3 linked regions of the Homo sapiens genome follow. The protein of the gene in region 1 interacts with the protein of each later gene in a pairwise test. Each region holds a gene or a part of one and is shown in the gene's direction. Other genes may lie near its edges.

Region 1 (7,623 bases):
TATCTTCTGTCTGTGTTGTCCCATTTTATTCCTCTGATTTTTCTGCTCCAAATTGAGGGGCAACATACAGTATGATTGTCAGTTAAAAAAATTTAAACAGGAGATACAAAAGGGTTTTGTTATTAGTTTCCTTAGAGATCAAATTGATTTAACATAAAAATTCACCGTTTTGCAAGTGAACAACTCATTTGGCATTTAGTGCATTCACATTGTGTAACCACTACCTCTGTGTTGTTCCAGAACATTTTCATCATCCCAAAAGGAAACTATGTACCCATTAAGCAGTTACTGCCCCCTACCCCTACCCGCTAACCCTTGATAACTGCCAGTCTGCTTTTGGTGTCTGTGGATTTACCTATTCTGGATATTCATATAAATGGAATCTTTACATATCTGTGAGCTTTTATGTTGGGTGTGATTGTCTTTTAATTGCTTGTATGCCTTTGGAACAGTCTTAAAATCATTTTTTTTTTTTTTTTTTTTTTTTTCAGGGAGTAGTGTACTATGAATACTTGGACTACAAGGTGGTGTTATAGTACATGTAGGTTTATAGATGAAAATGAACTAGACTTCATTGTGACGGTTCTTAACCTCACAGTGAAGGTCACTAAACCTCACTAAAGGTCATAGAATCCTTTAGGAATCAGGGCTTCATTTCAACCCCCGGTTGCTTCAAGTCAGTGGATCTCAGGATAAGAACACCTGATTTGAAATATTTTCTTTCCTTGAAACACACAAGTTAGATGAATCAACATGTTTGTCTTTATGACATTATTTCTTCTTGGTCCTGCCTTTTTCTACATATCCTTACTACTTTTGACTAGACGACTAGCCATCCTTGTACCTCTTTGCATTTTATTTATTTTTTTGAGACAGGGTCGCGAGGCTGGAGTGCAGTGCTGCAATCATGGCTCACTGCAGCCTTGACTTCCTAAGCTCAAGCCATCCGCCCACCTCAGCCTCCTGGGTAGCTGGGACTACAGGCGCATACCACCACGCCTGGCAAATTTTTGTATTTTTTTTGGAGAGACGGGGTTTTACCTTGTTACCCAGGCTGGCATCTTATTCCTGTGCTCAAGTGATCCACCCACCTCAGCCTCCCAGAGTGCCAGGATTACAGGGGTAAGCCACTGGGTCCGGCCCATCTCTTTGCATTTTAATCACTGAGTTCAATTTAAAAGTGGAACAAGGCCAGGCACAGTGGCTCAGGTCTGTTAATCCCAGCACTTTGGGAGATTGAGTTGGGCGGGTCACCTGAGGTCGGGAGTTCGAGACCAGCCTGACCAACATGAAGAAACCCCGTCTCTACTAAAAATACAAAATTAGCCGGGCATGGTGGCACATGCCTGTAGTCCCAGCTACCTGGGAGGCTGAGGCAGGAGAATCGCTTGAACCTGGGAGGTGGAGGTTGCAGTGAGCCAAGACTGCACCATTGCACTGCAGCCTGGGCAACAAGAGCAAAACCCTGTCTCAAAAAAAAAAAAAAAAAGAAAAGAAAAGTGGAACAAAAACTTCTACCAATAGGACCAGTATTGGATTTGACGTTGTTTTATTTATAAAATGATTTGTCATTAAGTTGCTGTTTCTACCTGCAAAGTTTCTAGATTCTTAGGGGCAAGGGTTGATTGTATTTGGTTCTTGGTAATGTGGACTATGTCTTTCCTATTGGCAAATAATTTTTACTATTAACTCTACAATGTCATTCTGAACTGTTATACGTAAGGTTATAATTATAGGCCTGTTTCTATGGGATAGCCATATTCTGATGTGTAAACATAACTGAAATATGTTAAATACTTTTTTTAAACTTGTTTACATTGTGTTGGGTTAATTTAAAAAAAGGCTTGAGCAGTAAGACTAACAGAAGTTCACATGTACTCAAAATTAATCTTTACGTCCCTTTTCTGCCTGCCTTATGTTCCCCAGATTTCATTAGATACAGTGTATTTTGGGTTATTGATGTTAAGTGTTTTTTAAAAAATACATCTCTAAAGTAGTATATACACTGAGTATAAAATGTGAGACTTTTCCATTTAAAGTTGGAAAAAAATTGCAACCTCAGGTCAGCTTTGTAGCTGATAAACTAGGAATGAGGAAGATTCAGTTGTTGAGAGGGCAGATGTCAACTAACACATCAGCAGTATCGAGCAAACATATTGACATAGCTGTTGGGTGTTAAGTTTCACATAAGTCATATTATCTTATGTGGTGAGAGGATGTTGGGGACAGCTGTGCCAAAACCTGATATCAGTAGTAGAGCCTGAGGTTGAGAACCAGGGTGGTAAAGGTAGAGGTGTGAATGTAAATGTACAGTTGTCTCTGGAATGTCTGCAGTTGGTACTAGATGTTTTTAGGTACATCAGGTTTTTAGGGCGGTCATGTGAGCACTCACCATAGACTGCTTTTCTCACTGGGTAGACAATAATGTATCTAGAGAATAGAGCAGCACTACCTAATGCCCTGCTTTTGTTCTGCTATTGTATTGAATCAGTTGCCTTATGAAATTGCACTTCAATTTGTGTACATAGATACGTCCTTAAAAAGACACAGGGTTAGATAAGAACACCATATTAAATCTGTGCTGTAATGTGTATTCCTGAATCCTAGACTCATATATCCAGCTGCCTATTCAGCATCTTTCCTGGAGTGTTTAAAAACTCAAGCTCATTTCAAGCTCAGTAATGCTAAAACAGAACTGATCTCTCCTTCAAATCTATTTTTTCCCAGGCTCTCATCTTGGTTGATGGCAAATTTCTCATTCCATTGCTTGTGCCAAAAGCCTTGGCCCTCCTTGATTCTTCTTTCTCTTATGCCCCACTTCTATTTCTGAGAAGATTCTTTGGCTCTACCTTCAAAATATATCTGTACTCTGACCACTTCTCACTATTCTTGTCCAAACCATGATCTACCCTTGCCTTTGCCCTCCGTACAATCTGCTGTCATCAGAGGAGCTAATTCTTCTCAGAACCCTCTAGTGATCACCTGTTTTACTTGGATTAAAAGCCAGAGTCCCTCAAAAACTCTACAAGGCCATCTACATGCTCTGTATTGCACACTTCAGCTTCCCTCCATATACTTTTGACCCTTGAATAACACAGGTCTGAACTGTGCGCGTCCACTTATACGTGAGTTTTCTACCAGCTCTGCCACCCCTGAGACAGCAAGAATAATGCCTCTTCTTCCTCCTCCCCCTCCTCAGCCTACTCAAGGTGAAGATGATGATGATGAAGACCTTTATGATGAGCCACTTTGACTTAATGAGTTGGTAAATGTATTTTCTCTTCCTTATGATTTTCTTAATAACATTTTCTTTTCTCTAATGTATTACAAGAATACAGTGTATAATACATATACAAATATGTGTTCGACTGTTTATGCTATTAGTAAGGCTTCCGGTCAACAGTAGGCTATCAGTATTTTGGGGGGAGTTAAAAGTTATACATGGATTTTCTACTGTGTGGGAGATTGGTCCCCCTAATCTCCATGTTGTTCAAGGGCCAAATATAGTTTATCTCTGAACTAATCTGTTTTCCACCTTTTCCATTTCATTCCAGCCACTCTTGCCACCTTTTTTTTTTTTCCTATAAATAAGCCTCAAGCCTTTTACTTGCTGTTTGCTCTGCCTGGATTGCTCTCCACCTTCGCTTCTTTTCTCATGTATTGCCTTCTCAATGAGGTCCTCCATGACTGCCGTATCTAAAATTTCATCCCTGTCCATTATCCCTCCCCACAGCATTAATTTTCTTCATAACACTTCTAATATGCTTCATCATCTTGTTTATTATTTGTCTCTCTCTACTCTAGAATTTAAGCTTCCTGAGGGCCAGTAATTTTATGTTTTGTTCAAAGCTGTATCTTAGTATGTACAACAGTGCCTGCTACATACATACTAGGCACTCAGGTATTTTTATATCAATGAACGAATGAATATTTTTGGGAACTAGGGTCTGGGCAAACCTTTATCCTACTCCTCCTATGAATTTCTAGATTCTTTGCCTGCTTCCTAGCTCTCTATGTTTTTCAATAGTTGGGGCTCAACCCAGGAGAGCCAGTTTTACTTCTCACTGGTTGTCAGGAAGACTGAGGTAAGTAGTGGGTATGAAAGGGTCTTACAGGAAAGGGTATAGAGGCTTCAGTTTATCACCAGGCAGTCTATGGACATGAAAAGTCTAAAGTCAGGTTTATGTTTAATTTCTCTACCTCCCTACTTTCACTCATGGCAATATTTGTTTTTTCAAAAAAATCATTCTATGTGTTTGCTATAACTATCAAATGAGATTTTTACTTGAAATATTTTATTCAGTTGTCATTGGACCTGCTGCTTCCTAGTTGGCGTTTATCTTACTTCCTAAACAATAGCTGCATCTTTCTTAAGTTTAGGAGCTGAGATTTGGTTGGGGCTGTTGAAGGTATAGGGGGAAAAAAATCAAACTTAAGTAACAAGTTCACATTGAAACTATGTATACACATATATATGTATATATATATGTTTACACACATATGTATATATATATGTTTACACACACATATATGTATATATATTCACGTATACACACACACACACACACACACACACATTTTTTTTTTTTTTTTGAGACAGGATCTTGCTCTGTTGCCCATGCTGGAGTGCAGTGGTGCGATCACAGCTCACTGCAGCCTTGACCTCCTGGGCTTAAGCAGTCCTCCCACCTCAGCTTCCCTAGTAGCTGGGCGTACAGGTGTATACCACCATGCCCCGCCAATTTTAAAAATGATTTGTAGAGATGGGGTCTCTCTGTGTTGCCCAGGCTGGTTTCAGACTCCTGGACTCAAGTACTGGGACTGCAGTTGTGAGCCACCACCTGGCCTGAAACTGGAATTTTTATGCTGAAATACTCAGTTGCCCAATAGCAGTGGTATGAACAGCTTTCACTATAGGGAATATGTGAATCAGTAATGCCTCCCGGTGCTCTGAAGTTTTGGGGTGACGTGAAGTGCACATGCAGTGGTGTTCCCTGTTGAAAATCAATGACTTACGGACTGAACCAGAATCTCTTCTTTATCAAGTAGCAGGATGAAGTGGCATCATGAGGATTATAATTCTGATGGTTTCTGAGCAAAATTTGTCCCACTTTCAGAATTTTGACATGTCTGTAAAGACTTAGATGATTTTTATTGTTTTATTTTTTAATTAATTAACTAATTAACTTTTTTGAGGCAAGGTGGTCTCACTGTCTCCCAGGCTAGAGTGCAGTGGTGTGTGATCTTGGCTCACTTCAATCTCTGCCTCCTGGGCTCAAGCAATTCTCCTACCTCAGCCACCCAGGTAGATGGGACTACAGACGTGCACCACCACGCCTGGCTAATTTTGCATTTTTTGTAGAGATGAGGTTTCCCCTTGTTGCCCAGGCTGGTCTCAAACTCCTGGGTTCAAGCAGCCCGCCCGCCTCGGTCTCCCAAAGTGCTGGGATTACAGGTGTGAGCCACTGTGCCTGGTCTTACATGATTTTTAAAACATAGAACATGTATTGGTAACGTTTTCTTATATTAGTTGTCTGCAAAAATATTGTTATATTTAATCTATTATTTTCCCTTTTCTCATAACTTAATTGTGTTGAGAATCAATGTTTGAGGCAAATCCATTTGGATTCTAATTGTATTTGGGCCTCTTGCCAGAAATCCGTATAACGTGTCATATGGTGTCTGTCCACTCTAGAGTGCCAAGTGTAACTCTAGAAATATCTAAATATTTCCACAGTTTCTGGATGGGTCTGGATATGGTGGCTCAGTCCTGTAATCCCAGCACTGTGGGAGGTTGAGAAGAGGGGAGGATCGTTTCAGCCTAGGACTCTAAAACCAACCTGGGCAACTTGGCGAGACCTCGTCTCTATAAAAAATAAAAAAAATTAGCAGGACATGGTGGTGTTCCCATGTGGTCCCCACCTATGCAGGAGGCTGGGATGGGAGGAACACTTGCGCCCAGGCTGCAGCGGGCCATGATTGTGTCACTGCATTGCAGCCTGGGTGACAGAGCAAGACCATGTCTTAAAACTTGCATGGTATTAAATATGTCAGAAGGTATTTGTCCATTTGGTTTTACTTACACACCTTGTTTAAAAAAAAAAATAGCAAAGTGTAGGCGTATTACATTTTAAAATATTCTTTTCAATTTGTTTTGGTATTGATATTAAGAATTACGTATATAGATGGACATTTACAATTTGTCAGAGGTTTTTCTCAAGTAAATTATTAAATTAGTATTACTTTTTTCTCTGGAGAAACAAAACCGTTGCAAAATGTAATCTTCTATAATGATTTTTTTAAAAAAAGTTTCTACTGTTGAAATATGTGCCTGGTGTAATGAAAGGGAGGTTGTACAATAATCCAAACAAAATTAAATTAACTTCTGTGAAGGAAAAGTCATTTAGTTTTTGAGAGATTATATTCCTTTGAACTGGAATGATTTTAAAGTGATTTATATTACCAAGAAAATTACCATGTCAAAACGGAAAAGGAAATCCTTGCATTGGACACTGGTGATTTTGCCCATTTAAGACATCTTTGGGGTGACTTTTTAACTTGAGAGAAAACTCAGGGCATACAAACGATTGTGAAGAAAAAAATAGAAGAGGCTTCTATTCTCTAGTTCATTACTCCTTAGCTTTAAAAATTATTTCTTTCACAAGGATATTTTATTGATGACTTACCTGAAGGCACAAAACATTTGGTGTTTTTAAAAACACACCATCTGCTGGTCGCGGTGGCTCATGCCTGTAATCCCAGCACTTTGGGAGAGCGGGGCGGTCGGATCACTTGAGGTCAGGAGTTCAAGACCAGCCTGGCCAACATGGTGAAACCTCGTCTCTACTGAAAATACAAAAATTAGCTGGGTGTGGTGGCGGGCATCTGTAATCCCAGCTACTTGGGAGGCTGAGGCAGAAGAATCTCTTGGACCTGGGAGGCGGAGGTTGCAGTGAGCTGAGATCATGCCACCGCACTCCAGCCCGGGCAACAAAGTGAAACTCTGTCTCAAAATAAATAAATAAATAAAAACAAAAAAATAAAAACAGTATTGATGAAATAAGTTATAATGTCCAAATTTACATTTTTAACTTGCCCATTGACTTCCTTATAGGTTCATCTCCCTCTACCCCCTCTTTGGGCTTTTTGGGTGATTTGCATGACCAATATAAATAGAGTGGCAGGCAAGATAATGTCCACACCCCACCTCCCCATGCGTGCGTCCCAGTCCCCAGGATTTGTGAGTATGCCACCTTACGTGGCAAAAGAGATTTTACAGAAGTGATTAAAGGTTGCTTAAATGGCAGGGTTATCTGGGTGGGTGGTGTAATCACAAGCGTCCTTGTAAATCACAGCGGGAGACAGGAGAGTGAAGATTATAGATGGGACCATGAGAAGAGAAGCGGAGGCTTGAGAGAGTTGCAGGGCCCTGAGGCAAGGAATGCCAGCAGCCTCTAGGAGAAAAGGCAAGGCTTTTCTAGAGCCTCATGAAGGAGCACAGCCTTCCCAACACCTTGATTTTAGCTCAGTGAGAGCCTTGCTGAACTTCTGACCTCCTGAATTCTAAGACAGAAAGTTTGTGTTGTTTTAAGTCACTAAGGTTGTAATCATTGTTTGAGCAGC
Region 2 (8,470 bases), on another chromosome or scaffold:
AGAACAGGGATGGAGCAAAGGTATCAGCAAGCTCCCAATAGCTCTAGGATAAAAATAATAAGGCTTATAATTTATTGAAAAATGACTATACAGCTAACACTAGACCAAATGCTTTTAAAATGTGGTTTCAGATTATTTTACAACCCTATCATGAAATTATTCTTATTCCCATTTTATGGGTGAGGAGCATGAGGCTCAAAGAAGTTAAGTAAATGGACCAAGATCATCAAACAAACAGAAATGGGATTAAAGCCAGGCCTTTCTGACTCAAGGTTGTGTACTGAGTTCCTGTCCAATTCTGCTTTCTGCATGTGTATTCATACTCAGCAAAGTTTGATGCCTGCATGAAAAACAATATTTAAAGTCTCCACCATGTATTGGCCACTTAACTGCCTCTATCACTCCTCCTCAAGGATGATGAAGGGCTGGGGCAAGAAGAAGATTAGATAGTATACCTCACCAACCATTCACACTGTTTGGAAGCAGCTCAGGCAGATTGCTGTGATGACAGCTGGCAGCAGAGCATGGGGAAGAACATAGGCCAGTGTGGCTCATGTTCCACCACGTCACTCCACTCCACCCATCCAGTCCATGTCATTGATAGGCACAAATGAGCTCCTGCACCATGCCCATCAAATGCCCTTCTCTCTCCCAGATGCCTTGTGTTACTCCTTCAGTCTCTGCTTTTTCCTCTTCCCAGACAGGCGGGCAGACCCTTGTTTTCACTACTGCCAGTCAGCAGCTCAGAGGAATTGCCAGATTTTAGAGGCAGACTTGCAAATAATAACCAATACATAAAAGAACACCTACTTTGTTTCCATGCTTAAGGAACTGGGCAGAATGACACAGATTTCAGAAGTTCCTAAAAGCAGGAAAAGGATGTGGCCTTAGGGAAAGGGCCTTCCGCTCTCCATTTCTAGTGGTCCTTACAGTGAGTGTTGGAAAGATTAAATGAGACAGTAAATGTGCTTGTGCTGTCAAAAGGGAAACACACCCAGGAAACAAAAGGGATTCCTGTCCCTTGGAGTCTGAGCAATAGGTTGACCAGTGGGATAGGCAAGACCTGGGATTCAGATCTGAGGCCTGATCTGCACCCACTATGTGCCACTCATTAGGATAGTGAAGTCTCACATAGATAAAGGCACATGGCACTTCCAAACAGCGTTCTTAAGATGGCTTGGAGGATGTATCAGGGTAGGTGACTCAGGGAGATAAGGGGCTTGTGTACACCTTGTCTCTTGATGTAGCCTCCAGGCCAGTCCTGGTCCCATTCACCACTAGGTGGACTATCCCATACCAGTGAGATGGCAACACCAGTGTGTCTTGAAAACCAAGGAGGACTCACGTGGACAATTTAACGTGGAAGTCCCAAGGTGTCTGCTAATTACTCGGTTGTTACGGTTTCTAGAAATAAAGCATGATGGAAAACAGGCTGTCCAGGCTGAATGAGGAATAGGTGATGAGACTGTGCAGGCACTTAGTGGGAACCATCTCTCTGGGCAGCAAGGCTGAGGGAGAAGAATGCCTTCTGGGGGAATGACTATAGTGACCACAGATACACAGGTCACATAGCCTTGGGGAGGAGGGACTAAGACTTTCCAGGAGGAAATAAGGGTAGAGTCAAGCAAAGGCCAAGCATGCAGGCTCTGAGGGACAGTGTTTGGGAATCTAATGTGGTAGTGGTTAAGAGTGCAGACTCTGATACCTTGGCTCAAATTGCAGCTCCACTATGTAGGAACTGTGTGGCTGTGGCCCTTAAGCTGCCTATGGCTCTGTATCCTCCATCTGTAAATGCAGGTAACACTAGTAGTAGCTGCTTCGTTAGGATGTGATGAAGATTAATTGGGGCATTGTGTGTGGCATGCTAGCATAGTGTTAGCACTAGTAACTGCTCAATAAATGTACCATTGCTGTGAGGCTGGGAATGGGAGGGACATACACACACACACTCATCCCAGCTCCAACTTTCATCTCCACAGGCTCCTTCACAATCAGTGAAGAATTAGGTACTTTCTTGCCAAAGATAGCTGAAGCTCAAAGCCCGTACCATATGGACACTTGGGATATTTTGAGCAACCATGTTGGGATGCGGGCTAGTGGCAGCACCAACTGATAACGTGGCTATGGGAGCTATTTTAAGTGTTCACCTACTCTCCCCATCCCATGCTCTCCCCAAATGCCAATGGTTCTCAACATTTTTTGGATCATGGCCCCTTCAAGAAATGGATGGCTACCAAGGATCCTCTTGTCAGAACAGCACATGTCCCCATATCTGCCACATTCTGCACTTTATTTCAGAGGCTCTATGGACTTCAGAATTTGAACCCTATTCCAGATATTCAGACTCAGAGACCTAGAGGTATGTCTCTGCTGCCTGCCTCTTTCCTCTGAAACCATGCCTTAAAAACACCAAGGGGACATTGAAACCTGCTTTTCTGGATCACATTCTGAAAACTGCTGTTCAGAAGAGTTGCAGCTTCAACAGGGCCACAGGGATATAAAAGCAGCCCTGGAATGATGTCTTCCCTAAAAACAACAAAATCATCAATAATGAATAGGAAGAACCAATATTGTGAAAATGGCCATACTGCCCAAAGCAATTTATAGATTCAGTGCTATTCCCATTAAACTACCACTGACATTCTTCACAGAATTAGAAAAAACTATTTTAAAATTCATATAGAACCAAACAAGAGCTTGTAGAGCCAAGACAATCCTAAGCAAAAATAACAAAGCTAGAGGCATCATGCTACCCAACTTCAAACTATACTACAAGGCTACAGTAACCAAAACAGCATGGTATGCTACAAAAACAGGCACATAGACCAATGAAACAGAAAGAGAACTTAGAAATAAAACCACACATCTACAACCATCTGATCTTCCGAAAACCTGACAAAAACAAGCAATGGGGAAGGGATTCCCTATTTAATAAATGGTGCCAGGAGAACTGGCTAGCCATATGCACAAAATTGAAACTGGCCCCTTCCTTACACCTTACACAAAAATTAACACTAGATGAATTAAAGACTTAAACGTAAAACCAAAAACTATAAAAACCCTAGAAGAAAATCTAGGCAATAACATTCAGGACATAGGCATAGGAAAAGATTTTATGAAATTGCCAAAAGCAATTGCAACAAAAGCAAAAATTGACAAATGGGATCGAATTAAACTAATGAGCTTCTGCACAGCAAAAGAAACTATCATCAGAGTGAACAGACAACCTATAGAATGGGAGAAAATGTTTTCAATCTATCCATCTGACAAAGGTCTAATATCCAGAATCTACAAGGAACTTAAGCAAATTTACGAAACCCCCCACAAACAACCCCATTAAAAAGTGGGCAAAGAATGTGAATAGACACTTCTCAAAAGAAGACATACATGCAGCCAACAAATACATGAAAAAAGAGCTCAACATTACTGATCATTAGAGAAATGCAAATTAAAACCACAATGAGATACCATCTCATGCCAGTCAGAATGGCGATTATCAAAAAGTCAAGAAACAACAGATGCTGGCGAGGTTGCGAAGAAATAGCAACGTTTTTACGCTGTTGGTGGGAATGTAAATTAGTTCAACCATTGTGGAAGACAGTATAGCGATTCCTCAAAGATTTAGAACCAGAAATACCATTTGATCCACAATCCCATTACTGGGAATATACCCAAAGGAATATAAATAATTCTATTATAAAGATACATGCATGCATATGTTCAATGCCGCACTATTCACAATAGCAGACTTGGAATCAACCCAAATGCCCATCAATGATAGACTGGATAAAGAAAATGTGGTATATATACACCATGGAATACCATGCAGCCATAAAAAGGAACAGGATCATATCCTTTGCAGGGACAGGGATGGAGCTGGAGGCATTATCCTCAGCAAACTGGCAAAGGAACAGAAAACCAAACACCGCATGTTCTCACTTATAAATGGGAGCTGAACAGTGAGAACACATGGACACAGGGAGGGGAACAACACATATTGGGGCCAGTTGGGGGAGTGCGGGGTGGAGAGAGCATCAGGAAAAATAGCTAATGCATGCCGGGCTTAATACCTAGGTGAAGGAAGGGTTGATAGGTGCAGCAAACCAGCATGGCACATGTTTACCTATGTAACAAACCTGCATATCCTGCACATGTATCCCGGAACTTAAAATTTTTAAAAATCGTCAATAATAACAATGAAAGCAGCTAACGTTTTTGGGTACTTGCTATGTTCCAAACACCGAACTAAGCTCCTTACATGCATTATCTCATTTAATACTCCCCAAACTTCCATGATGGCAATAGTATCCTGGTCCCTGTTTTGCAGATGAGACACTAAGGCACACAGAGGTTAAATAACTTGCCCAAGATCACACAGCTAGTAAGTAGTAAGATTCAAACCCAGACCCAGACCGTGCTGTCAATCAGTATACTTTGTGACCACCTAGTGACATCACAGGAACCACACTTCCATCACCTATTTTAATGCCCTGAATGTTCATCCTAATAAATGCACATTAGACTTGAGTGGGTAAAAATTCTGAATGTACTGAGTCTTCTACCTTGGGCCAATCCTTCTCTTCAAAATGAACCTGCATGGGAATCAATGCTGAAAGTGGAAAGAGACCCCAGACAGGCCTGGCATCTGTATGCATAAGACAGAAAACCATCTCCCTGCACCCCTACTCCCAGTTAAAAGGCTGTGGGCATCTTTGAGCCAATGAATGGGCTGCTACAAAGAATTCTGGGAATCCCAACCCCTCACAGTTCTGCAACTCACAGTCCTGCAAAAGGTGGGTACTAGAATAGGGAGGTGGGCATATAGGCCAAATACTCTGTTCTGCCTTCCAGGAGGGAAAAAGCATGCTACCCAGGAAGCTCACAAGTGACATGTGGCCCATGGGCATACCAGGGCTAAAGTGAAGGATGGACTGCTCTGTGGAAGGAAGGAGTGAAAGTGAACAAGAGGCATAGGGCCACCTGCAGGAAGACTGAGAGGAGGGAAGGAGGAAGGCTGGCTTTGGCAGGGAGGGGAGGCAGGAGCAGAGGGAGCCAGAGGATCGGTTCAGGCAGTGAGAGAGGGCAGCCCCACTCTATTTCCCAGGCTGCTCTCTGGATGCAGGCAGGAAGGTTGAGTGTATTACACTGGCCCCACCTCCAGAGGCTCTCTCTGCAGCCGCTGGACTGGACACAAAGCGTGAGAGACAGAGACACCATCTCTGCTGATTTGTACCTAACTGGTTCCTGTTGCTGAGAGCCCACGTGTCACAGAAGCCAGGGCAGAGGCCCCACACTGCTGTCTGCATTTCCCAGGTAAGCAACCGTCTGTGTGTGAGCCAGGAGTGGAGAGCAAGGCCTGAAGGCGGTGAGCAGAGAAGAAAGTAGGAGGCGGCTGCCTAGGATGGACTTCAGTACAATCTGGAAAGAATGAAGGAAAGAAGAGGGGTATGGGCTGGGGTTGCAACAAGCCCTTAGGGTAGGCTTCTGCAGAGTGTTGATGGATGTATGAGGTTGGGGAGTCAAAGGCTGCATTTGGTCCACTCTTGGCTGGCAAGTGCAGAGGAAGTTCCAGCAAAGGACTGCTCTGACAGCCTCTGGGGACTAGCACATCTGGGGAGCAGAGAGGCCCGCCATACCATGGCATCAGTGTTCCTCTTTCAGACCAGGTATATTTGTGCAGACTTTGCCAGAAAATCCCTCCCTGTGCCCCTGCCTGCCTCCAGGTCTTCCTGGTGGTCGAGAGCATGCGTGTGGCAGCGACAGGAGGAAGAAAGCAGGACATATTCACTGGGGATATGGCTTCAGATGGAGGAGGGATACCTCATCTGAAAAGAGAGTCTCCTGACGGGCTCTGGAGAGGAGATTGGTTAGCTAGTGGAGGGCTGTGTGCCACCCTAAGGAGGCTCCCCTGTGGCCCAGAGGAAAAGAATGACACACAGACTGTGGAAAATGGGGTATTTGTGCTGGAGGTGGGGTGGGGAGCGGGTAAAGTCAGTGATCTGTGAACAGTGCCACAGAAACAGGCAGTATGTTGTCGTAAAGAGGGAAAGAGACCTAAGACATGTGTTTCATACAAATCCAGCATCCCTTTGCTGTCCCTGCTGGGGGACCTACAGCCCCGGATCAAGCCTGCTGGTCTGAGCAAGTTCTATGAGGTTGGCTAGTGGTATGTCCCCTCTATGAACTACACATTCACTCCCTAAGATCCACTATGCTGAAAATATGTCAGATCTGGGCTCCTGTCAAAAGGCATGCCAGCTACCCTCTGCCATGTGATGGGTGAGGGAAGCAGTGAGAGAAGAGGAGTGGTCCCTGGGCTTTAGGGCACAAAGAGACGTGAGATGCTGAATTCCAGTCACAACTGCAATGTGTCCTCCCTCCATCCATGGCTTCTGTATCCAGAGCAGAAAGTGAGGATTCCTCCATACTGCTCCCTCTTCATACACACAGGGTAACTGGGCTCATGATCAGGCAGAAACCAGGGAAGAACAGTTTAATGAGATGGGGATAGGGTTAACTGTACCAGCCAAATACAAAGATCACTCCTTTTATCCAGTCTGAGATGGCAGTGAAAGGTGGGCAGAGGTAGAGAGAAGGAGCTTTCAGAAGGTAAATACTCAGTGACTAATACTCTTGAGCACCACAGGCAGTGGCCTCTGCAACATGGGTCCTGGCTCTGATGGGCAGCCACTGGCCTCTCTCTTTGGCGGAGGGCAATCTGGGTCAATGAAAGCAGGGAGGAGCCCAGCAGTGAGGCCCTGTAGCCAAGGTTCCTTGGCCCAGAAAACACAAGGGGCTTTGATGCCTGCAGAAAGCCACGGCTTTTCACCCCAGGATGCTGCAGCTGCTCTTGGGCAGAGCCCAGCCCCAGAGCAGGCTTCAGTCTGAAGGCCACAGCTGGGAGGCAGGACCATTTGGGGCTTAATGGCCTTAAAATTAGAGAGAAACCCCACTGCTGCTGTCTATGAGCTGTGTGGCCTTGGGCAGGTAAGTAACCTCAATAAAGCTCAGTTTCCTGGTCTGTAAAATTGAAAGAATAATATAGTAATAATAGCATCTATCTTTTTTTTTTTTTTTGAGATGTAGTCTCGCTCTGTCACCCAGGCTGGAGTGCAGTGGCGCGATCTCAGCTCACTGCAAGCTCCGCCACCATGCCCAGCTAATTTTTTTGTATTTTTAGTAGAGACGGGGTTTCACCGTGTTAGCCAGAATGGTCTCAATCTCTTGACCTCATCATCCGTCTGCCTCGGCCTCCCAATAGCATCTATCTTAAAGTTTGCTGAGAGGAATAAATGAAATTATGTTTGTGAAGCACTCAGCATAGTGGCTGGCTCATAACGTGTGCCCAGAAAAATGAGAGTTTTAATACCCCCTCTGGGATTCTCAGAAGTTTCTCTCCAGACTAAAGCAGATTTAGCCCTCTGGTCAACAGTTGTCCCCCTGGAGAGGCCCTCAGTACCCTGCCTCTCTAGTAACTCCTTTAAAATCTGTCACTCATCCAATCCTTGTTAACCAATCCTCCAGCAGGCTTTCTCCATGTCTTCAAGCTAAAATAAAATAAGTTTGAAAATAAAACCCAAATGGCTCTCATGTCTCATGCATTATGTTTGAAATCCTACATCTGGCTTCTTGAGTCAGGAGATGTGTACCCCAGTGGACATCTGTGGTATGCCAGGGGATCAATATGGCACACTTGGGGGAAGATTAAACATTTAAACCCAGGTAACTTTAATACTATTTTCTATAAAACAAATGCGACTGGCAGGGCACAGTGGCTCATGCCTGTAATCCCAGCACTTCGGGAGGCCGAGGCAGGTGGATCACAAGGTCAGGAGTTCAAGACCAGCCTGGCCAAGATGGTGAAACCCTGTATCTACTAAAAATACAAAAATTAGCCGGGCATGGTGGTGGGCACCTGTAATCCCAGCTACTCAAGAGGCTGAGGCAGAGAATCACTTGAACCGGGAGGCAGAGGTTGCAGTGAGCCAAGATCGCGCCACTGCACTCCAGCCTGGGTGACAGAGCGAGACTCCGACTCAATTAAAAACAAAAACAAAAATGAGACATAAAATGTAAACTCTCCTGAATGTTTATGATGAAGCAAAATTTCAAAGACAGGTCAAGCTCTCAGTGGGCATCCTCTGCCCCCGGGTGCTTATGGGTAGCCTTCCTGGCAGTTAGGAGTTCCTCAGAAGTTACAAGGGCCTGAGAAGCCCCGCTTAATCAGTGAGGGGCAACTGGTGCCTTCCTGACTCACCCTCATTCTCCCAAGGGCTGCTCCTTATCTTTGGAAGAGGTGGCCTACACAGCCCAGGGCCTGAGAGGTAACCCTAGCTGACACCATCATGGGATGGCAGACTTCCATTCCTGGCAGGGACAGCAAAAGCCAGCCTGGTTTCCAGCTTCCTGAGTGGGGGACACTGTAAGAGTGTCTTAGGAGGACCACAGCTTGGTTCCTACCCTCTCATCG
Region 3 (7,623 bases), on another chromosome or scaffold:
TGGGGCTTAAAGGGGGAAAGTTCCAGGCTGATGAAAGAGGTAGGCAGGCTGGACTCAACACCAGGGGCCGCATCTCACTGGCTGCGTTGGGAGTGTCAGAACTCTAACTCTACCAGGTTTAAGCAACAAAGGGAAGTCATTGGCCCATGTAAACGAACAATCCAGAGGTGGCCTAGCTTCAGGTGCAGATCGGGGCCTTGCTCTCAGCACCTTCTCCTGGGTTGGCTTCACTCTCTTCCACAAGGACCCTGGGTAGTCCCAGCTTCTCTCCTCCAATGCAGCCTCTACAGACAAAGGGTTTCTCTTTCCCAATAGTTCCAACAAAGTCCCAGAATTGAGTGTCTTTGGTCTAGCCTGGGTTATGTGACCATCCTTGAGCCCATCACTGTAGCCAAGAGTACAGGGTGTTTTGATTGGTCAAGCTTCAGACACCTGCCCCAAGGTTTGAGGGGATGAGTTAGCCTCCCCAAACTTGCAATGAGAGTAGGGAGTAGGGGCCACTTTAAAGAAGGTAACAGAAGCAGCATGAAGAGGTGCAGGCAGGCCATACAACAGGCCCACGTAGTGGCCCTGGCAGTGAGCTACCTAACAGTGAGGACTTGCCTTTTCATCTGGAGACTTTTGCCTGTGAGCACCAACGCTGGGTTAGGCCCTGTGTTAGGAATGCTGTAACCATGACCACATTGCACCTCCCAGCGCTGTAGACCATCAGCTGTGAGGAGGGAAACAGTGAGACCACAGAAGTGGACAGGGCCTGCTGGGCTTTGTATGCCAGCCAGGACTTTTGGCCTGTATCTTGAAGGCTGTGGAGAACCACCAAACGGTTTTTGTTTTTTTTTAGATAGAGTCTCGCTCTGTTGCCCAGGCTGGAGTGCAATGGTGTGATCTTGGCTTACTGCAACCTCCGCCTCCGGGGTTCAAGTGATTCTCCTGCCTCAGCCTCCCAAGTAGCTGGGATTACAGGCACCTGCCACCATGCCCGGCTAATTTTTATATATTTAGTAGAGACAGGGTTTCACTGTGTTGGTCAGGCTGGTCTCAAATTCCTAACGTCAGGTGATCCACCTGCCTCGGCCTCACAAAGTGCTGGGATTACAGGTGTGAGCCATTCGCCGAGCCCACGACAGGGTTTTAATTTGTGGAGGGAGGTGGTCAGCTGTGCATTTTGGAAAGGTCACATGGTTGGAGCAAGAGGAGGAATGGGTTGGAAGAGGAATGGAAGGCAGAATAGTAATCCTGGAGACATGACCAAAGATCTTTGCCAAGATAGTGGACTGTCATGGAAGGGCCAGACACCTGGGACAGTGAGGACAGACTTTCTAGGGCTCAAGGACTGATTGGACTTGGAAGAGAGATGAGGAGGAAGAGTTATAAAGGACTTCTAGGGAGTATAGTGGGTGGGTAAGGGAGACAGGGTGGGTTCAAGAAGAGAAAGGGAGTTGAGATTTGGAAATGCTGGGTTTGAAATGCACCTAGCTTGAACTTACATGTTAGTGCAGAACAGATTATGTTGAACAGTTGGGCTGACCATAAGCTGCAATAGCGGGTGGAAGGAAACAGCTTCCTGCATGCATTCCCTCTGGCAGGCACCCATAAGAGCCTGGAGTGTGTAGGCAGGAGAGCAACAGGTGAGTAATGGCTGCCTCCCTGCAAAGGGCTTGTGTCCTATAGATTCATGTTTTACTTGTTTTGCATTTCTATAATTCACTTCATCAAGGATATGAAAATACTTTTCCAGCAACAATTCACCCTCAGGATCAAGCAGGTGATGTCACCCACTGCCCAAGCTCCTCCCCAATGTCTCCATCTTGTCTTTATGGGTTTGCCTAATCTAACCTCTGCCCCTTCACTCACTGTGCTCCAGCCACACACCTTCTACCCCAGGGCCTTTGCTCTTCCCTTCATCTCCTTCAGTCTCTGCTCAGATGCCACCTTTTCAGAAAGGCCTTACCTGACCATATCCTTCTCGCTATTCCTGTTTCCTACTTTCAAATTAGCATTTGTCACTATTTGACATTATCTGTCTCCTCCATTAGGATTATCAGCTCCTTGAGGACAAGGACTGTTTTGCTTTTTGCTGTCCCCCAGCATCTATAACAATACTAAGCCCATAGTAGGCCCTCAGGAAACCATAGTAGGAAACCTCAGGAAACCCATAGTAGGCCCTCAGGAAACCCTCGAGAATGAAGGGATGATTGAATGAGAGACTCCGAAGATGTGTGCTGCATGTGAGTTTCCAGTTGGTAGCTGACAAAGCAAGGTGCTGTCAGGGGTTGTGCCAAATAATCATGGAGGAAGTGGGAGAAAAGACCCTCCTTTCTCATTCTAGCTCCTGGTGGTGCAAGGTGCTGCAGTTGGAACCTAGCCCAGCACTCTTTTTCTAAAGTATGGCTTTTCTCTTTTCCCCTGCTTGGGGAGGGGCTTAGGGGTAGGACTGGCTGTGCTCTCTGGAGGACACACGCAGTTGGCTGGCGGCTTTCCTCTCATGTGCTAGGAAGTCTGTGTCTCAGGCTGAGGTTAGGAGTGCTGTCATGGGTTAGTGCTGTCATGTGCTAGGGGAAGGGTGGGAGGCTGCTGGCCACCTGATATCCCTGAGAGGCCTGGGCTGGGAGTCAGGGCCCTGGCTCTAGTGACTTGCTCTGTGGCATTCAACAAGCACCCCCACCCCCAGCCCCGGGCCTTGCCATTGAGTAGGAGCCAGGGAGCAGATGTGGCCAAGGTCCCACACAGCCCTGCTGCCCATGCCCTCACTTTCTAATTACAGAAACTTGCCAGTGAACGGGATGTCCTCCAGAGAGAGCTTGAAGAGCTAAAAAAGAAGTTCGAGGGCATGAGGTCTCGGAACAAGCTGCTGTCAAGTGAGATGAAGACCCTCAAGAGTCAGATGGGAACCCTGGTGGAGAAGGGCCGGCATGATGACGAGCTCATCGACGCCCTCATGGTATGGCCCCACCACTCAGGCAGGGCGAGAGCCAGGGGTGGTTCCTCAAAGGATGGGCCCCAGCCATGGCCAGAGTGAGCCCTCACTCACCCCTCAATGCCACCTGTGTAACCCCAAAGCCCGTTGCCTCCAGATGGCCCCCAGTACCAAAGCCCTGCCCCAGGGACAGGAGCAGCTCAGGGAGGCTGCCTGAGGGCAGGTAGGGGGCTGTGATGGAGCAGCACCAGGCACAAGGCACTGGGCCTATGGACCCCAAAAGAGACAGAAATGTATTGGGGGAAGGAGGTGGGATTATACCCTGGGTTATTTTTCAGCAAGGAATGAAAGGGACAAGAGGAGCCAGTACCAGTTCTTATCTCTGCAGTGGCACAGAACCCTTCCTCTTCTGGGCATGTTATAATGCTTAGTCCCTAAGATAACTTCTAGGATCATATATTTTAATCCCACTTCACAGATGGGGAAACTAAGACTCAAATTCATTAGATAACTCATCTAAGACCATACAACTGAGTTCAAAGCAGGTTTATCTGACTATAAAAACTTCCTGGATTAAACGTATCTCAAAATAATAAGAGCTATTTATGACAAACCCACAGCCAATATCATACTGAATGGGCAAAAACTGGAAGCATTCCCTTTGAAAACCAGCACAGGACAAGGATGCCCTCTCTCACCACTCCTATTCAACATAGTGTTGGAAGTTCTGGCCAGGGCGATCAGGCAAGAGAAAGAAATAAAGGGTATTCAAATAGGAAATGAGGAAGTCAAATTGTTCCTGTTTGCAGATGACATGATTGTATATTTAGAAAACCCCATCATCTCAGCCCAAAATCTCCTTAAGCTGATAAGCAACTTCAGGAGTCTCAGGATACAAAATCAATGTGCAAAAATCCCAAGCATTCCTATACACCAGTAACAGACAAACAGAGAGTCAAATCATGAGTGAACTCCCATTCACAACTGCTTCAAAGAGAATAAAATACCTAGGAATCCAACTTAAAAGGGATGTGAAGAACCTCTTCAAGAAGAACTACAAACCACTGCTCAATGAAATAAAAGAGGACACAAACAAATGGAAGAATATTCCATGCTCATGGGTAGGAAGAGTCAATATCATGAAAATGGCCATACTGCCCAAAGTAATTTATAGATTCAGTGCCATCCCCATCAAGCTACCAATGACTTTCTTCACAGAATTGGAAAAAACTACTTTAAAGTTCATATGGAATCAAAAAAGAGCCCACATTGCCAAGACAATCCTAAGCAAAAAGAACAAAGCTGGAGGGATCATAGTACCTGACTTCAAACTATACTACAAGGCTACAGTAACCAAAACAGCATGGTACTGGTACCAAAACAGATATATAGACCAATGGAACAGAACAGAGGCCTCAGAAATAACACCACACATCTACAACCATCTGATCTTTGACAAACCTGACAAAAACAAGAAATGGGGGAAGGATTCCCTATTTAATAAGTGGTGCTGGGAAAACTGGCTAGCCATATGTAGAAAGCTGAAACTGGATCCCTTCCTTACACCTTATACAAAAATTAATTCAAGATGGATTAAAGATTTAAATGTTAGACCTAAGACCATAAAAACCCTAGAAGAAAAGCTAGGAAATACCATTCAGGACATAGGCATGGGCAAGGACTTCATGACTAAAACACCAAAAGCAATGGCAGCAAAAGCCAAAATAGACAAATGGGATCTAATTAAACTAAAGAGCTTCTGCATGGCAAAAGAAACTACCATCAGAGTGAACAGGCAACCTAAAGAATGGGATAAAATTTTTGCAATCTACCCATCTGACAAAGGGCTAATATCCAGAATCTACAAAGAACTCAAACAAATTTACAAGAAAAAAACAACCCCATCAAAAAGTGGGCGAAGGATATGAACAGACGCTTCTCAAAAGAAGACATCTGTGCAGCCAACAGACACTTGAAAAAATGCTCATCATCACTGGCCATCAGAGAAATGCAAATCAAAACCACAATGAGATACCATCTCACACCAGTTAGAAGGGCAATCATTAAAAAGTCAGGAAACAACAGGTGCTGGAGAGGATGTGGAGAAATAGGAATGCTTTTACACTGTTGGTGGGACTGTGAATTAGTTCAACCATTGTGGAAGACAGTGTGGCGATTCCTCAAGGATCTAGAACTAGAAATACCATTTGATCCAGCAATCCCATTACTGGGTATATACCCAAAGGATTATAAATCATGCTACTATAAAGACGCATGCACACGTATGTTTACTGCGGCACTATCCACAATAGCAAAGACTTGGAACCAACCCAAATGTCCATCAGTAATAGACTGGATTAAGAAAATGTGGCACATGTACACCATGGAATAATATGCAGCCATAAAAAAGGATGAGTTCATGTCCTTTGCAGGGATATGGATGAAGCTGGAAACCATCATTCTCAGCAAACTATCACAAGGACAGAAAACCAAACACCGCATGTTCTCACTCATAGGTGGGAATTGAACAATGAGATCACTTGGACACAGGGCGGGGAACATCACACACCAGGGCCTGTCGGTGGGTGGGGGGCTGGGGGAGGGATAGCATTAGGAGAAATACCTAATGTAAATGATGAGTTGATGGGTGCAGCAAACCAACATGGCATATGTATACCTATGTATCAAACCTGCACGTTGTGCACATGTACCCTACAACTTATGTATAAAACAACAACAACAACAAAAACAAAAACTTCCTTGATTAGTAAGGCCATACTGCTTTCCTAACCCTACAGCTTGGACTTTTCTCTGTGGGACCCGAGGCACCAAAGTTTGGTGTCAGATTCCAAGTTGTGCCTGCAGGCCCGGGGCGGGTGATCATGTCTGGCTTGGCTGGGGTGTTTGGGGGGTGCTGGCTCAGGCACCTACCTTAGTTCATGATCACTTTACATGATAGGGTGGTGAGCGGGGCACAGAAGACCAGAAATCTAGGCCTGCCTCTGTCAGTATCTCACTGTGTGACCATAGGCCAGTCGCATCCCCTCTGAGGCTCAGCAGCCAGTTTTAAAAATAAGTCGCAGGGCTGGATGTCCTCTGAGGTCCCTGCATGTCACCATTCTTTGTCATTGAAAGTGGCATGATGAGAGCTGCAAACTAGTCCCAGTCATGCTATTCACCAGCAATATGCCCTTGGACTCTCTGGGCCTCAGTTTCCTCCACTCTGAGGTGAAGACAACAGCCCCCACCTGTTCCAAATCACTGACATTGTCCTTTCTGTTGGCCCTAGGCAGGAAGCCTTTGCCCAGGAGTCTCCTTGAGGGCTTTTCCTTGGGATGAGGCTTCAGTCAGGTGCTAATGGATCCCTGGCAGGGGTCCAGGTACTGCCTCCAAGGGCAGTCTCCCAGCCAAGCAGGATCAGGCTTTTCTTTTAGCTAAATATCTCCCCCACCGGGTGAGGAGTCACCATCTGATCTACTTTCTGTTGTCTGAGAGCCCCTTGGATCTTCTTGGCCCCAAACTCAGAGAAGGAAGTTGAGGACAGGAAAAGAACATGGTCCCCACCTGCCTGATTCAACATCCCCTGATGGCAGGCAAGGAAGGTGTTCCTGCCTCTCGAGGGAACAGGATCCCACTGTTAGGTTCCTGCAGCCTGCTTTGGGGTGAGGGAGGCAGTCTGTTCTTGTCCTCCCCGGCCCAAAGGGCCATGACTGACTCCACCTGCCCTCCTGCCTGGCCCCCCAGGACCAGCTGAAGCAGCTACAGGAGATCCTAGGCAGCCTGAGTCTGCAGGAGGAGAAAACGCGAGTGTCCCAGCACCACCTGGACCAGCAACTGAACAGCGAGGCTCAGCGGAGCAACAGCCTAGTCGCCCAGCTGCAGGCCATGGTAGCTGAGCGGGAGGCCAAAGTGCGACAGCTGGAGATGGAGATCGGACAACTCAATGTGCACGTGAGTAGGGCACTGGCAGCGCCCAAACCCATTTTCAAGCCGGGCAAGTCCATCCAGCTCCTTCCACTTCTTTCCACTTGCCTTAGCTCAGGCCAGACTTCATCCTTCCTGGCTCCACTTTGGCCACCTGCTTCTATCTGGCTCCCCAACCCATTCTGCACACAAACCTGATTGTGTCCTTGCTCTACTTAAAATCTGTTCATGGCTTACTGTCACCCTCGACCTCACCTGGTTCTCAAGGACCCAGGCACCTTCCAGTTTACCCTCTCCCATCCCCAGCTGTGGCCTTATCCTCAGGATTCAAGATGGTGGCAGTAGCTCCAGCAGCAGGATGAGAGAAGGAAAGCCACACTTCATTCAGCTTCTAGGCACCATGTGACTAACTCTTGCTGCCACCCCTCCTGCATCTTCTCTTCACCCCTCCCCTTTCCCTACACTCTGCTACCCAGGCACCATTCAGCTCCTGCTTGCTCCGCACTCCAGGGCTACGCGCAGCGTGAAGCACACTCCCTCCCCTCCTCCCCCACGGCCTCGGTCTGGCCGGCTGCCCCTCAGCCTTTAGGTCTTACCTAGTCAGGAGCTCCTCCAGGAAGCCCCAGGACCCCTGTTCTGTGTTGTGTTCCCCTCCTAGGCACTCTCCTAACTCCCTATGCATCCCCAAACCAAACTTCTCTCACGCTGTGTAGTCATTTTCCTGTTTTCTCCCCTGCACTCTCTGTAAGGGAGCACAGACCGTGGTGCCTCAGTGCCTGGCA

What was found.
Region 2: the proteins of ZRANB1 (region 1) and ZNF648 interact in binary tests that used the Homo sapiens proteins (3 or more experiments, as listed by UniProt).
Region 3: the proteins of ZRANB1 (region 1) and CCDC13 interact in binary tests that used the Homo sapiens proteins (3 or more experiments, as listed by UniProt).

What each region holds. Positions count from the first base shown.
Region 1 is NC_000010.11:124,944,947-124,952,569, forward strand, and holds part of ZRANB1 (ubiquitin thioesterase ZRANB1), read left to right. Parts: intron 1-7,623. UniProt on the Homo sapiens protein: Ubiquitin thioesterase, which specifically hydrolyzes 'Lys-29'-linked and 'Lys-33'-linked diubiquitin. Also cleaves 'Lys-63'-linked chains, but with 40-fold less efficiency compared to 'Lys-29'-linked ones.
Region 2 is NC_000001.11:182,058,411-182,066,880, reverse strand, and holds the start of ZNF648 (zinc finger protein 648), read left to right. Parts: upstream 1-5,168; 5' UTR 5,169-5,313; intron 5,314-8,470. UniProt on the Homo sapiens protein: May be involved in transcriptional regulation.
Region 3 is NC_000003.12:42,734,952-42,742,574, reverse strand, and holds part of CCDC13 (coiled-coil domain-containing protein 13), read left to right. Parts: intron 1-1,487; exon of another isoform or gene 1,488-1,600; intron 1,601-2,764; coding exon 2,765-2,941; intron 2,942-6,661; coding exon 6,662-6,868; intron 6,869-7,147; coding exon of another isoform or gene 7,148-7,186; exon of another isoform or gene 7,187-7,623. UniProt on the Homo sapiens protein: Required for primary cilia formation and promotes the localization of the ciliopathy protein BBS4 to both centriolar satellites and cilia.